Homo sapiens: one gene and its partners. The protein of the gene in region 1 interacts with the protein of each later gene in a pairwise test. Each region holds a gene or a part of one and is shown on either strand. Other genes may lie near its edges.

The links.
Region 2: the proteins of LPAR3 (region 1) and PGRMC2 interact in binary tests that used the Homo sapiens proteins (3 or more experiments, as listed by UniProt).
Region 3: the proteins of LPAR3 (region 1) and CPLX4 interact in binary tests that used the Homo sapiens proteins (3 or more experiments, as listed by UniProt).
Region 4: the proteins of LPAR3 (region 1) and TFEC interact in binary tests that used the Homo sapiens proteins (3 or more experiments, as listed by UniProt).

Annotation. Positions count from the first base shown.
Region 1 is NC_000001.11:84,816,707-84,820,206, forward strand, and holds part of LPAR3 (lysophosphatidic acid receptor 3), read right to left. Parts: intron 1-3,500. UniProt on the Homo sapiens protein: Receptor for lysophosphatidic acid (LPA), a mediator of diverse cellular activities. May play a role in the development of ovarian cancer. Seems to be coupled to the G(i)/G(o) and G(q) families of heteromeric G proteins.
Region 2 is NC_000004.12:128,281,314-128,284,813, forward strand, and holds part of PGRMC2 (membrane-associated progesterone receptor component 2), read right to left. Parts: intron 1-3,500. UniProt on the Homo sapiens protein: Required for the maintenance of uterine histoarchitecture and normal female reproductive lifespan. May serve as a universal non-classical progesterone receptor in the uterus.
Region 3 is NC_000018.10:59,312,150-59,315,649, forward strand, and holds part of CPLX4 (complexin-4), read right to left. Parts: intron 624-3,500; coding exon 536-623; intron 1-535.
Region 4 is NC_000007.14:115,954,264-115,957,763, forward strand, and holds part of TFEC (transcription factor EC), read right to left. Parts: intron 2,531-3,500; coding exon 2,416-2,530; intron 380-2,415; coding exon 323-379; intron 1-322. UniProt on the Homo sapiens protein: Transcriptional regulator that acts as a repressor or an activator. Acts as a transcriptional repressor on minimal promoter containing element F (that includes an E-box sequence). Binds to element F in an E-box sequence-specific manner.

The DNA of each region.
Region 1 (3,500 bases):
AGGATTGTTTGAACCCAGGAGGCGAAGTTGCAGTGAACCGAGATTGTGCCACTGCACTCCAGCCTGGGCAATAGAGCAAGACTCCATCTCCAAAAAAGTAAAAAGCAAAAAAATATATAAATATCTTCATTTACTTGAAAAGAAGGCTTGCATCCAAACTCTGCCTGTTGTACTCTTCCATTTGTTTTGTGTGATCCTCTGCAATAGCCCAGGAAAAGTCTGTGCTTTCTCTATGTGATGCCCTTCAGGTTTTTGAAGACAGTTAACGCTTTCTGTCTTTCTTTAGCCTTTTCTCCAGGAGACACATATTGAATTTTATCTACTAGTTCCCAGATGCGTACCTCTGGACACTCATTCATATTTGTTAATGCTGAGAATTTTTTTTTTAAAGTAATCTGGGCATCACACAAACTCTTCTTTGAACCCTGCTGGTTCCCAGCAGTCATAGTCTGAGCATTGAGGCTAAATACTCAAAAGACATTCCTTTTAGTTTTTTTCTTCTGGATTTATGTAGATTGGTAGGCAACTAAGTGATAAATATTTTCCAGGATCTATCACACACACACACACACACACACACACACACCCCTCACTTTTAAGAATTAGTCCAGTTACCTGTTTGAATGTTCCTGACATCTCCACATTCTCTATGAATTCTCCAAGACTACAGAGCCTAGGGTGTGGAGGTGCGTGGGGAGGACTTATGTTTAACTGCTAACATAGAGCAAACCCCCTCAAAGTATGAACTGTTAGATAAACTGTGCATCTCTTCTGAGATGTGTTTGGAGAGAGATCTTGGCCTCCAGGTGGAGGAGGCTTGGAACAGCTGTTTCCCAGGGTCACTGCCGGGGAGCATCTGCTTAAGGCAACATCTCTGAAGTACCTGTTCTCTAGTTTAGCCACCTAGTATGTTTGTGCTGTTCTGTCGAAGAACATTTGCCTTTTGTTGTTCATTGGAAACAGCATAAAGATGAGATCAGCAGATTTTTATTTCTCTTCTGACACCACGGCCAGCCAATCAGCCAATATTTTTGTTGGATTCCTTTGGATTCCTTCCCTCCTTCCATCTCTCCCTCCCTTTCTTCCTTTCCTGGCCAAAAAAAAAAAAAAATCTTTCCTTTAACAACCAAAGAATGATGTAATTGTGATATATGTAGCTTTATGGTCAGACATGACATACTACGGAGGGGCCCTTGAAGTCCAGAGGTACCCTCCTACTCCTCCTTCACTCTCTTCAGTAGTAAGATGCTTTACGGGCCACAGCTGAGCAGCCTAGCACAAAGTCAGGAACATGGCTCTGGTGCCAGGCTGCCTGGGTTCCAATCCTGGCTCTTCCACTGATCGGCTGTGTGCCTTTGACCACATCACCTAACTTCTCTGTGCTGTAGTTACCTCAGGCTTAAAATGAGGGCAGGATTAGTACCATTCCCAAGGGTTTTTATAAAAATTAAATGGATTAATTCATATACAATGATTAAAACAGCATCTGACACAAGATCATTGCTCAATAAAAAGCTTATAAGGTTTTAATTGAATGAATTATTTTATGTAATTCAACGAAAAGGGAAACTATATAGGAATTATCGTATTATGACAAAAAGCATCAATGTGAAGACTTGTTTGGAGTGTTGGGTCACAAGATTAATTCAAAACAGAGTTTTGTGCTGGGGAGAAAACTTTCATGACAAAAAAATCACGTCATTAAAGAACAAAAAATCACATTAAAAATTCACATCTAATAATATGAGAGTGGGGCTTTAGGAAAACATTGGCAATTTATTTTTATCCTTTTTTGAGTGTGTGTGCGATGCACGCATGCCAGGGGGGTGTATTATATTATTCAAACAAAACTACAAAAAATATAGTGAACTTTAAAAAATAATGCTTAAAAGAATAAAAAAAATAAGAATACCTGTCTACTTACCACCCAACTTAAAGAACTTAAAGAAACTTCAAAGAACACTATCGTATCTTTAGAGCTTCCTGGGTGCCCACCCCAGGAGCCCTCTCTCCTGTTGAGATAAACGTATCATACATTTTGGGCTAATCATCTTCTTGCTTTTTCTCATGGTTTTCCAATATACGGATGTAATGTTAGACATCATATTGTTTAGATTGATCTGTTTTTTAACTGTACCGTGATTTGCACTGATTTTAGTTATCAATATATTGGAATTCACTTCTAGCATCTTATTTTGTTCTTTGTTTCATTTTTTTCTATGTTTCGCTTTTTTCCCCCTCTCTTTTTTCGTATTGAGATCTTTTATTTTTTCATTTCCTTTGGTTTCATTTTCCCCCTTCCACTGGTTTGGAAGTTGTAGACTCTATTAAATCTCGACTTACATGTTTAACAAAGTATAAAGTTGGCCAGTGTTTGTCCTTCCTTCCCGTCAGCATAAGGACCTTGGAACACTCCCACCTGGATTTTTTGGAATTATACAATTTCATATAGAAAGGACTCTTCACATCAAAGTTGGTAGCTATAGCTTTTGATGTCTGGCTTGTTTAGTTTTTCTCTCTTGACAACACAGTAACCCTCTCTTGAGAATAGCAGAGAGAATAAAAATGTTACTGTTATGGGAAATACAGATCACTGGAGCTGGGTGGGGCCTTAAAGATTACCAGTGTTTTTCAAACTTTTGACCAAGCCAAATGAAAATTAAAGGAACTTTTAAAATAATGCATATTCTCTGGTCCCACATCAGACCCAATAGTCAGAATCTCGGGTGGGACACAGAAATCTGCAGGACTAAAAAGTTCCCTGGGTGATCATGATGCACAGCCAGTTTTGTAACCTATTTCTCCATGCTGACCCAAAATGGTTTAATCAAGCTGACTCCATAAGCAAAATTATAGATGCCATATAGACTTAGCAAAAAGCCATGGAAAAGAGAGAGGGAGCACAGTTTTTTCAAATGAGAAAATAAGCATCTCTAGAGATGAATATCTTCAATTTGCATTTGGGAAAATGTTTGAGCACATACGCAAAAATAAATATACAAAGAGTGGCAGCAAAAGTAGTCTACAGGCAAGGCATCCACAGTCCTCCTCTGCTGCTCTTTGGCTCGCCGTGCCAGGAATGCCTTCTCACCTCCTAATCTGAGGTCTGCTTTTCTTTCTAAGCTTAGTGCATACTCTGCCTTCTCCACTGGAGCTCTCCCATCTCTTCCACCACAGTGTCCATTTCCTCCTCTCAACTCCTGTAGCACTTTCTACCTATAGCATTCACGTGGCACTGGGCACATTACCTGCTTAATTCCTCTCTAGCATTTCCTGAGAACTCTGGGTCAGGCAGTGTGCTCAGGGCTTTACATGCACTTCCCCTGTAAAACTCACAGCCTTACAAAGTTGCTACTTTTATTATTATCCTAGACTAACATACAATAAATTTGAAGTTTAGAGTAGCTCAACAGTTTGTCCTAGGTGCACAAGCCAAAAAATAGAAGTTATCATTTGAACTCAGGCCTGACTTCCCCATGCAAACTCTTGAGCATTGAGCT
Region 2 (3,500 bases), on another chromosome or scaffold:
AATGTCAGTAAAGTATCTTAAAGAGGCAGCTTTTTCAAATTGACACTAAAATGATGTTTGGCTAAAATTCTTATATTGTTCAGAAGCATAGGATAGTCATCTATAGCAAAAACTTAAGGAAATCACTAAAAGGATAGAAATAGAATACATCCAAATCAGTAGAGGAGAGAAAATGGAAGAAATAAAAAAATCAATCAGAGAAGGAAAAATAGTGGGAAAAGAGGCAAAGAAAAGTAAGGTGAAGAGAAATCACAAAATAAGATGATAGAAATAAACCTAAATATACCCGTAATCACAAAACATATACACTAATTAAGCTATTAAAGGACATAGTGCTAATATTAAATGAAAAAATCCAGCTATATGTCATTAATGTGAGAAAAATAAAACAACACAGATTGACTAAAAGGGATGGAAAATGAAATATTGTGTTAATACTAATCAGATAAAGGCTGAAGTAAAATCTGAAAATCAACAGTGTTAAAGAGGTTTCTAGTATGATCAGTTCTAGATCTACTGCTAGATGGCTTTGCTCGGTATAGAAAGCATAGTAACAATCTCACTTCAGAACATTCTCATACCCAATCTTTGTATGGCTGGCTCTGTTAGGTTTTTGCTTAAATGTCGAGCCCTTTTTCTCGAGAATCTAACATAAAAAAGGTAACCTTGCTTAGCCACTTAATCTAAATAAAGTCCTTTGTTACCCTCTATTCCCATTCTATTAATTTCTTTTATAGCATATTACAGATTATAATTACATACTGAAATCCTTGTTTACTGCCTCTCTTCCTTAATAGACTATTAACTCCATGAGGATAGGAACACATCTGTTTTGAAGACTCAGTTAACTCCATTTCTCATCTCTTAAGCTTTTACTGTAATGAAATCCAGGGAAGTCTTCCTCAGTATTTAAAAATGGAGCTGAAATCCTATTATTAAAGATCCTGAGACTGGATATAGGCTCCAAAAGAATACAGGAGTTATACAGTCATGTCTGTCTTGGGTGCACAGGGAAAGGAGTGGTCTATGTCAGAGTGTTGAAAAAACAATTAAAAGAACTTGAATGGCTAATTCCAGATGTTATTAAATCTACTCCTTTCTTCCACCCTGAATAACAGCTTCTGGTTTCAAGCTATCCTTTTATAATATGCTTTAGGATTTAACACAAATACGATTCCCTCAAAGATTAAAAACAACGGGATGATGTTGAATTCAGAGCCAACTAAGTAGTTATAATAGAAATAACTAGTAGAAATTTGAGCAGAATATAAAAAATCATCAGAAAACCTAGCTAATCCTTTTATCTTACTGGTAGGTAATAGATGCATATGGGCATTAGCCCAAACAACAAAGCCAGTTGGCTTCAAAGCAAGAAGCTGGGATGAGAGGTGGGCAGTGGCAACTTTAGGACATCCATGAAGAAATAGGTAAGATTGGGTCCAGTTTTTATGATGCAACTCTGCAAACACAGAGTTTCCAATTCTGCAAACTAAAGTGTTAAATAAAAGTGAACAAATTGAAGATAAAGTTTAAAATGGAGGAAAAACACTTCAAGGTACATGTGTTCTTTTCCCCAACCTCCTAAATATTAGGCATCTCATGGGGTTCTTCTTACGTGACTTTTTTCTTTCAGTGGAATTTAAAAGGTAAGTTGGAAAAAATATAGCTTTGGTATATGTCAAAGAATACTCCACCTGGAATAAGGGAGCAGCAGTATTGCAAGGTTCAACAACGCAAAATAAACTATCAAAAAGTCAAGTGTATAATTTTTTGCCATTCCAAAAAAATAAAAGCACTGTTTTGGTAAAGTTCCATTGCAGTAATATTAAATAAAATTGTTAAAAATTATACTAGCTGTTTGAGTCTTCAAAACTTATGATTCTGTAAACATGTGAAACTGAATAGACTATGTTGTAATACAATGGGAAGGATTGAAGCTATGAAAATCTGGATTTAATTTTTAGTGTTGCCACCTACTAGATATGTGGCTTTGGGCAATCTCATAGGGCTGTTTGAAAATTAGCGATACTAAGCTCAATAAATGGAGTTTCCTCCTTCTCCTCCTCTGACCTTTAGAATCAGTGTTGTTTTCAACAACTCTCTGGGAAGACAGAAATACTCTAAGAGGTGCCTTGTTAGTGCAGTAGGTGGCACGCCAGTCTCACAATATGAAAATATACAAAGTGCACTGTCCAAAATGGTAGCCATGGTGGGCTCAGCACTTTATATGTGGCTAGTGTTACTAAGGAACTCAATTTTTAATTATATCTAATTTTAATTAATTTACTTTTAATTAGCCACCTGGGGCCACCATTTTGGGCAGTATAACATAAAGCCATAAAAGCATTTTTTTTTTTTTTTTGAGACAGAGTCTCGTTCTGTCATCCAGGCTGGAGTGCAATGGCGAGATCTCAGCTCACTGCAACCTCCACCTCCTAGGTTCAAGTGATTCTCTTGCCTCAGCCTCCCCAGTAGCTGGGATTACAGGCACCCACCATCAAGCTCAGCTAATTTTTTTTTGTATTTTTGTAGAAACAGGGTTTGGCCATGTTGGCCAGGCTGGTCCCGAACTCCTGACCTCAGGTGATCTGCCCGCCTTGGTCTCTCAAAGTGCTGGGATTAAGGCATGAGCCACCGTGCCTGGCCTTTATTTTTTTATTTTTATTTTTTTTTTTTTAGTAGAGATGGGGTTTCACCATGTTGGACAGTCTGGTCTCAAACTCCTGACCTCAAGTGATCCGCTTGCCTCAGCCTCCCAAAGTGCTGGGATTACACGCGTGAGCCACCGTGCCTGGCCGAAAGGCATGTTTTTTTTGAGGCTTTAAATCCTTGGATTTATGGGAACCAGGGAAGAGTATAAAGAAAAACAACAGTAAGATTCTCTACAAGTTTATCACAGGATGCAGTTTACTAGAAATAGTATAGATAAGCTGTGTGGTAATATCCATCTGGATTTATTAGACATACATGTAATCCAAGCCAATTTACCTAAAATACCTAGACCTCAGACTCCCCACCTGTAGAGCAGGAATACTTACCAACTTCACTGAGGAATTATGGAGATAAAAAAATTAATGGATCTGATATTGTGGGTGCTTAACGAATCTGGTTTTCTTTCTCCTCCTGTATTCAGTTTTTTACATGACCAAACTTTCCTCACCTGCTGGCCAAGTGCCTGATCTGTTACTAAATTTAATATTGGCAAATACAGTTAATGCCAACTGTTTGCCAAAATGTGTATACTCCACCAAATTACACTGTCAATATTTAATTAAGAGCCTGAACTTTAAAAATGTATGACTAAAAATAAACACATGTTTAGCATTATGGAAAAATCTCACAAAATTTAATCCTAAAACCATTATTGTGAAATTAGGGTAGATATTGGCTAGGCATAGAAACTAACAATTACTGCTTCTGAATTATTCTGCTACAAAACTGCTTAATTTATGAGGATGAAAATAAAAATTAAAAGCAAAACTGAACTTGTATCTGTTTTA
Region 3 (3,500 bases), on another chromosome or scaffold:
TACCTAGAAAGAGCTCAACCAATGTGAGCTATGATTATTGTCCTTGTTGTGTATTTACATAGAGAAGTTCTAGAACCTTTAGATAAGTTTACATTAAAATGTCATCTATAGGTATTAACTCCAGTTTTTTTTAGCAACAGTGGAAGTTCATAGAGGTTAAGTTAAAAACTGGAATCAAGTTTTTATGAACTCCTAGTTCAGTGCTCTTTTCACTATATCAAACATTTCAGTTATGATTAGGATATACGTGTGTGCATATATATATATATATCCTGAATATGTGTGTGTGTATATATATATATATATCTCCTGAATATATATATATCCTGAATATGTGTATATATATATCCTGAATATATATATATCCTGAATATGTATATACATATCCTGAATATATATATTTTTATATATATATATATCTTGAATATATATATATATATTCATATTCAGGAACATGATCCTTTGTGGATAATCAACCATGACTTCCCATTTATCATTAATTAAGAAATGATTAGATGTTTCCAGAGTGTCTTACCTTTGGGAGCCTGTATTTTTCTCTGAGATGAACTCTGAGGCATGCCCTTTCTGCCTTTTTCTGTGTAAATGCAGCATCTCTTTCCATCCTAAAAGTTAAAGAATAAAGGATCAGAAGGATACAGAGAGCTAAGGACATTCCTGCCCGTGCTCAGAGGAGCCAGACACAGGGTTACACCTTCTGAGATGCCACTGCTGGCAGACACTTGGGAACTATGGGATTTTTTTCCTAGGTCCCCAAACGTCTGCCTCTCTGTTTGTTACTCTACTGTCATAACTTTCAGTATATACCTCTAAGTCTCAAAGACAATTTGGTCCTAGGAATCTCTGTGTGATGCGAACCAGGAGATTTTTCCTAACATGGAGTTTTCCGTGGACTGTTCAGCCAGGGACCATGAGCCTCAGAATCACTTGGTGCACCTATGACAAATGCAGCTTCCTGGGCCTGATCCTAGCCCTGCTGCATCAGAATCTCTGGGTGCAGGGGAGGGGAAGCTACATTTTTAGCAAGCTCCCCGAGTGATTCTTACGCAAACTAAAATAGGGCCACAGTGTCCAGAACCAGGCAGTTCTTTGAAGACCGTTGTTGTTGGGGGATATAATATAAACCTGTCTCCCTTCATTGTTACTCTCTCCAGACCCCAATTTAGGTACGGTATTTTCTTCCCAGTTTGGAAGGAGGTAGCCCCAAACAAGGCAGGGTATGTTTCCAGAATGTCAGACTGGGGTCCTGCTGTGTGAATGATCTAATTGAACTCATGATGTTGCTGGTTTGAAATGGACGTTCTTGCTAATGATGATTCAGACAAAAGCAGACACCTTTGGGAATGTCTGCAAGGCTCACAAGCACCACCACCCGTCCCTGCTGCCCACAGAAGTCCTTTATTGGTAGCTGAATTTATATACATGGCCCTGCCCTCTGGCTATATTGGGTTAGACCAAGCTCCGTAAATGAAATCTCTTTGAAAATTTGGGAATGGTACTAAGAATGACAGACACTTGCAGTGTGGCTGTCAAAATAACAGATGAACTTGGTAGCCATTGGCTGTCATTTTCCACTAACCTTGTAGTCTGGCTGCTGAGGAAGAACAAAGCAGCCATGCCCAGATAGAAGCAATGGTAAGAGATAGGGAAAGAGTGCTCGTGGCCTCTCAACAGCCTTCTGCTTTCTGGTTTAGGCCCACGTGAGGCCTGATGGGAATTCTACTTGTGGATCTGGTGAACTATCTTTGCATAAAGCATTATCTGCTTAAAACAAATCCCCTGTTTTCATTTTCAGGTGAAAACTGGTTTCTATGTCTTGACTCCGAGTTTGTAAATAATCTTAACCATTATACAAAAAAACTGAGTGTTAAGGAAGGAGCTGCAGCAAATGATCAGTTTAAACTGATCAAAGGCCCTGGGCTCAGGTGCTCTCTGAACTCATTTCCATCCACAGAATGTCAGGTCTGGAACGGGCATGAGAGAACATCGGGTTCAACCTTCTAGTTTTGGAGAGGGACATCGAATAAAGTGACCTGTCCAGGAGATTAGCGACCTGCGGCATGGACAAGCAGCAGACCTTTTCTCCCCATGTTTTACTGTAAAAACTTCCAAACATACAGAAACGTTGAAAGAATTTTGATATCAAATCCATCTAGATTCTACAATTGGCATCTCACTGTACTTTTTTTTTTATCACACCTATTCCTCTCTTTATCCACATTTTACTTTTTTGATACATTTCGAAGTTGCAGAAATCAGTAACATTTCCCCCAAACTCTTCAATATGCATGTCATTAACTAGCGTGACATGTTTGTTTATAGTTTCTCTTTTCTTCTTGTGAAGCAAAATTTGTATCCAATGCAATGCACAAACCTCTGAAGCACACCATTCAATGATTCCCCAAAAAGCACACACCTGTGTAACCCAAAAACCCTCTCAAGATAGAAAACATTACTCTCACCTGGGAAAATTCCCCCATCCCCATTCCTGATCAAGGCCTACCCCCTAGCCCTAGAGGCAACCACCACGCCTTTTCTACCATAGATTGGTTTTGCCTGTTCTAGAACTTCATAAAATGGAACCATACAGTTCATCTTTGTGTAAGGCTTCTTTCACTCAGCATAAAATACTTTCGAGATTTAACCTTGTTGTTTTATGTACTAGTAGCTGGTTCCTTTTTATTGCTGAGTAGTAAGTATTCTATTGTTTGCGCAAATACAATCACCATTTGTCTAGTCATTTTTCTGTTAATGAACACCTGAATTGTTCCCCATTTGGGGTGACAGTAAGTAAAGCTGCTAAGAATATTGTTCTAGATTTTTTTGTGGACATATATTTTAATTTCTACTGGGTAAATAACTAGGCATGGAATTTGCTGGGTTCTACGGTAACTTACTGGGATGCATTTAGTTTTATAAGAAACAGCACGACCTTTCTCCAAAATGGTCATACTAGTTTATGCTTCAACAATTGAAACAAGAGTTCTAGTGGTTTCACATTTTGGCCAATATTTAACATTTTTTGTCTTTTTGATTTTAGCCATACTGGTGTTTATGGAGTGCTACTTTACTGTGATTTTAATTTTTTCCATTTCCAAGACAGCTAATGATATTAAGCAGCTTTTCATGTAATTTCCAGTAAGATTTTCATGTACTAATTGGCCATGTATCTATCTTTCTGAAGTATTTCTTCAAATCTTTTGCCCATTGTTTTTGCTTTCATTATTGAGTTATAGGAGTTCTTCATATTTCCTAGATTCCAGTCCTTTGTCAGATATATTTTCCAAATATATCCTCTCAGTCTGGCTTGCCCATTTATTTTCTAAATGGCATCTTTTAACGTATAAAAGTTTTTAACTTAGAGTTGAATTTATCATTTAATAATTTTATGGTCATTGATATGGTCATTGCCAATCTGGGTCATGATACAGAAATCTTCATCTACTTTCAAGTTGCAAAGATATTCTCCTACTTTTTTTTCT
Region 4 (3,500 bases), on another chromosome or scaffold:
GTCACTTTTATCTCTTTAAACCTTTGAGTCAGTGAGTCACAACAGAATTCAAATGTAACCAAATGCACTCATCTCAGTCACAGGCAGCCTCCTTGGAAGTGAATGATCAAGGAGGGAATTCGAGATGTTTCATTTTGTGAAAATAGATAGCTTTTCTGAGAGCTCACATTGTTAATATTTCCCAAAATAAATCAAGTTATATGTGCAATTAATTTTGGCCATCTGACATGAAAATACTTATGGAGTATAATAAAAGACCACACACCTTAACCTCTATGCATTTCCTTTTGCATTAATTTTATATGGAAAAATATATACTCACTGAGGTTGTGGTTGTCCTTTTTTTGTCTCTCTTTTGCTAAAGCTCTAGTGTCAGTTTCTGATCAAAAGAAAAATAATAAAAACCATGCTTAGTTCTACCTTAAAACCCCTCCAGGCAACATAATTCAGAACTCCTAGGTGAAAATAAAATATTATTTGCTCCAAAACGGTACAATAATATTTTTGATGCAAATATTCAGAAATTTGGAAAACAGTACTCTTCAGTGAAAGGCAATGGCAAAGCTTTTAGGCTCTGGGATAATAAAAACTGAATTTATTTTCTGGCCCTCCATTTAATAGCCATGTGATCTATTGCCACACTTCTCTGTGTTTCAGGCTCTTCATCTGTAAAATGACTATAATACAATACCTACCTTAAAATCATTGTGATAACCAAAAGAAATATAGTATACAGAAAATATAGTATTCAATTATTATTTTCAGAATTTTGAGATTCAGAAATTATTCCAACCTAAATATTTTATTAGTAATTATTATTTCTACATCCCAAGAGTTGCAACTCACTATATTTCTCAAATATCCATATGAAACACTTCCACACTTTCTTCCAGTAAATGGCACTTCCCTGTATATATGGTGTGGTTGTATTTATATGACCATCAACCTCCAGGATGGCCTACAATGATTCTTAATTTGTAGTATTCACACCTTGTAATTCCCTCCCACATTAAATAAATAAGGCTGACCTGTGAAGCCACTAGCTTGTTGTGGAAATGACTAGTATGGTATCCAAGGCTAGATAATAGGAGAAATTTTTAACTTTCACATTGGCATCTCTTTGATCTCTAGTTGTCATGTCATGAGGACACTCAAGCAACCCTATGAAGAAGTCCAAGCAGTCAGGGACAAAGACCACTTGCCAACAGGAAGCACTATCCTACAAGAACTTGAGTGAAACACCTCGGGAGTGCATCCTCCAGCCTCAGTCAAGTCTCAGGTGTCTGTACTTCTGGCTGACATCTTGACTACAGCCTCATAAGAGATTCTGGTCTGAACGAATTCACTAGGCCACTCCTGGATTCTTGATGCTCAAAGACTGAATGAGATTATAAATGTTTATTACTTTGAGATTATAAATGTTTATTACTTCAAGTTGCTAAATTTCAGGGGTAATTTGTTGTTATGCAACAAAAATAATACAATATTATTAGAGTTATAGTTTAAAAAGTTAATAAGATAATACATTTTATTTAAATGTATTTATTTAAAACTATAGTCATTAATTTTAGTCTGAATAATTTGGATGCATAGACATTTTTGAATTATTGATTGAGCTTTAAGAGTGGTCATGTTGTATTTATTTAAAATTTTACCGTGGTGTTTGAGCTCCAAACCAAAAGTTTATTGCAGAAATCTCAAGTGAATTTATTTACTTTATTCTTACGGAGGATCTAACACTGGACTTGGAAGTCAGGAAACCCTTACGTTGATCCAGTTCTGCCTGTAATCAGCTGTTACACCTTTAGGAAAGTAGCTCCTTTGACCCTGGGTTGATTTCCTCATTTATTTTGGAAGAATTTGACTATGCTCCTATAATTTGAGTTGTAACAATTAAAATAAACTATTGAAAACTCAGGGTTTATTTTCAATTAAGAAAATTAAATGTGAGTCTATCATGAAATCCATAAAACAAGCTAAAAAGAAAAAAAAATCCAATATTTGTTTTTTATCAAATTCTGCATACAAAGAATAGACTAATTTCTCTAATTTATTATTTCACTTTGTAACCATGTTAATAAATGGCATCTATTTAATATAAAAATGAGCCTATGTTAAATGAAGCTGTCTTTTATATATGTATGTATATATGTGTGTATATACATGTATATATGTATGTAAAACATATATGTGCATTTGCTCAATTTCCAAAATAATGAATCAATTCAGTCAAACTATAAGTTATTTTAACTTACTGCTTGATTATCATAAAAAGAAAAGATGAATTTACTGTCTGCCTTCTTTTTTGTAACTGTTTTGTTATACTTTTAAAATCCTAGTTAGCACAATATATGTCACTCATAACTTATGTCATTAATAAAAATAAAAAGGGTAAAACTATAAAAGCAACATTACCTGTAATTTCTCTTTTCATTGGTAGACTACTTGGACAAGAAGCACTTGTAAGCCCCATGTTAATTGGTGAAATTCCTTGTTCACCGCTATACACATCCAAAATACTTCCAGATAACTTGAGAGGAAAAAGGAAGAAAAGATTAATAAAAACCTTCTGTGCAAATTGATATATTTAGTTATATATATTACATTTTCCACTTTAAATGTGGCATTTTGTTAATAATAATTTCTAATTTGGGGCATTTTGCTTTTAAACAAGACGAGTATGCATTAACTTTTTAAAAGATGCATTATAAAATGCTTACAGATAAGATGCGCTGAAAAAAAGTTATATGTGTTTAAGCAAAAAGAGAAATCAGTTCATGTATGAAGGAAAATTCCTATTAATATTTACAAAGTTATGGAAGTTTGATCCAGCATATGACCTGGTTATAAATGGATGTAATTAAAAATATTATTTTGGACAAAAATCAATATACATCTTTGCAAAGCTGGAAAGTTCACCACATCCCACAAATTAGGTATAACGGTTGAACATTTTGGGACCCTTCTTAATACCATCAGTGCTACCAGCAACTCACAGTCAAGAGGTGTTTTACACTGTTAATTAAATGAGAAACTCTTCCCTTCCTGGAAGGCATACTTTTTCTCATTGTACACTTAATGTTCTAGATTATTATAAATATCCCAGCTGGTAACCAAAAGTAGTCTAAAACTACTTTTGCCTCTAGTGAATATAGGGTACATCCAATTATAGCAACACTGCAATTCTTGAACTGCTTCTTGGGAACAATTTTTCAGAAAACCTAAGTTGCTTTATACACAATTCAAAATTGCACCAATTCATTATTCAAAGTGTGCTTATTGATTTGATTTCCCAAGAAAATAACATTTAAGTAATATTCATATTTCAGGTTAATACTCATTATTCCAGAACAAGCTGCATTCACTATGCAGGATTTGAAATTTTAAGATATTTCCATTGTGAGTATCTTTCTTCCACTTCTGTGCAATAAACCAAGAGCTGAATAAGAAGCAATTTTTTTTATTTCCTCAATGACTAGGAATAAAACATATAATAAAAC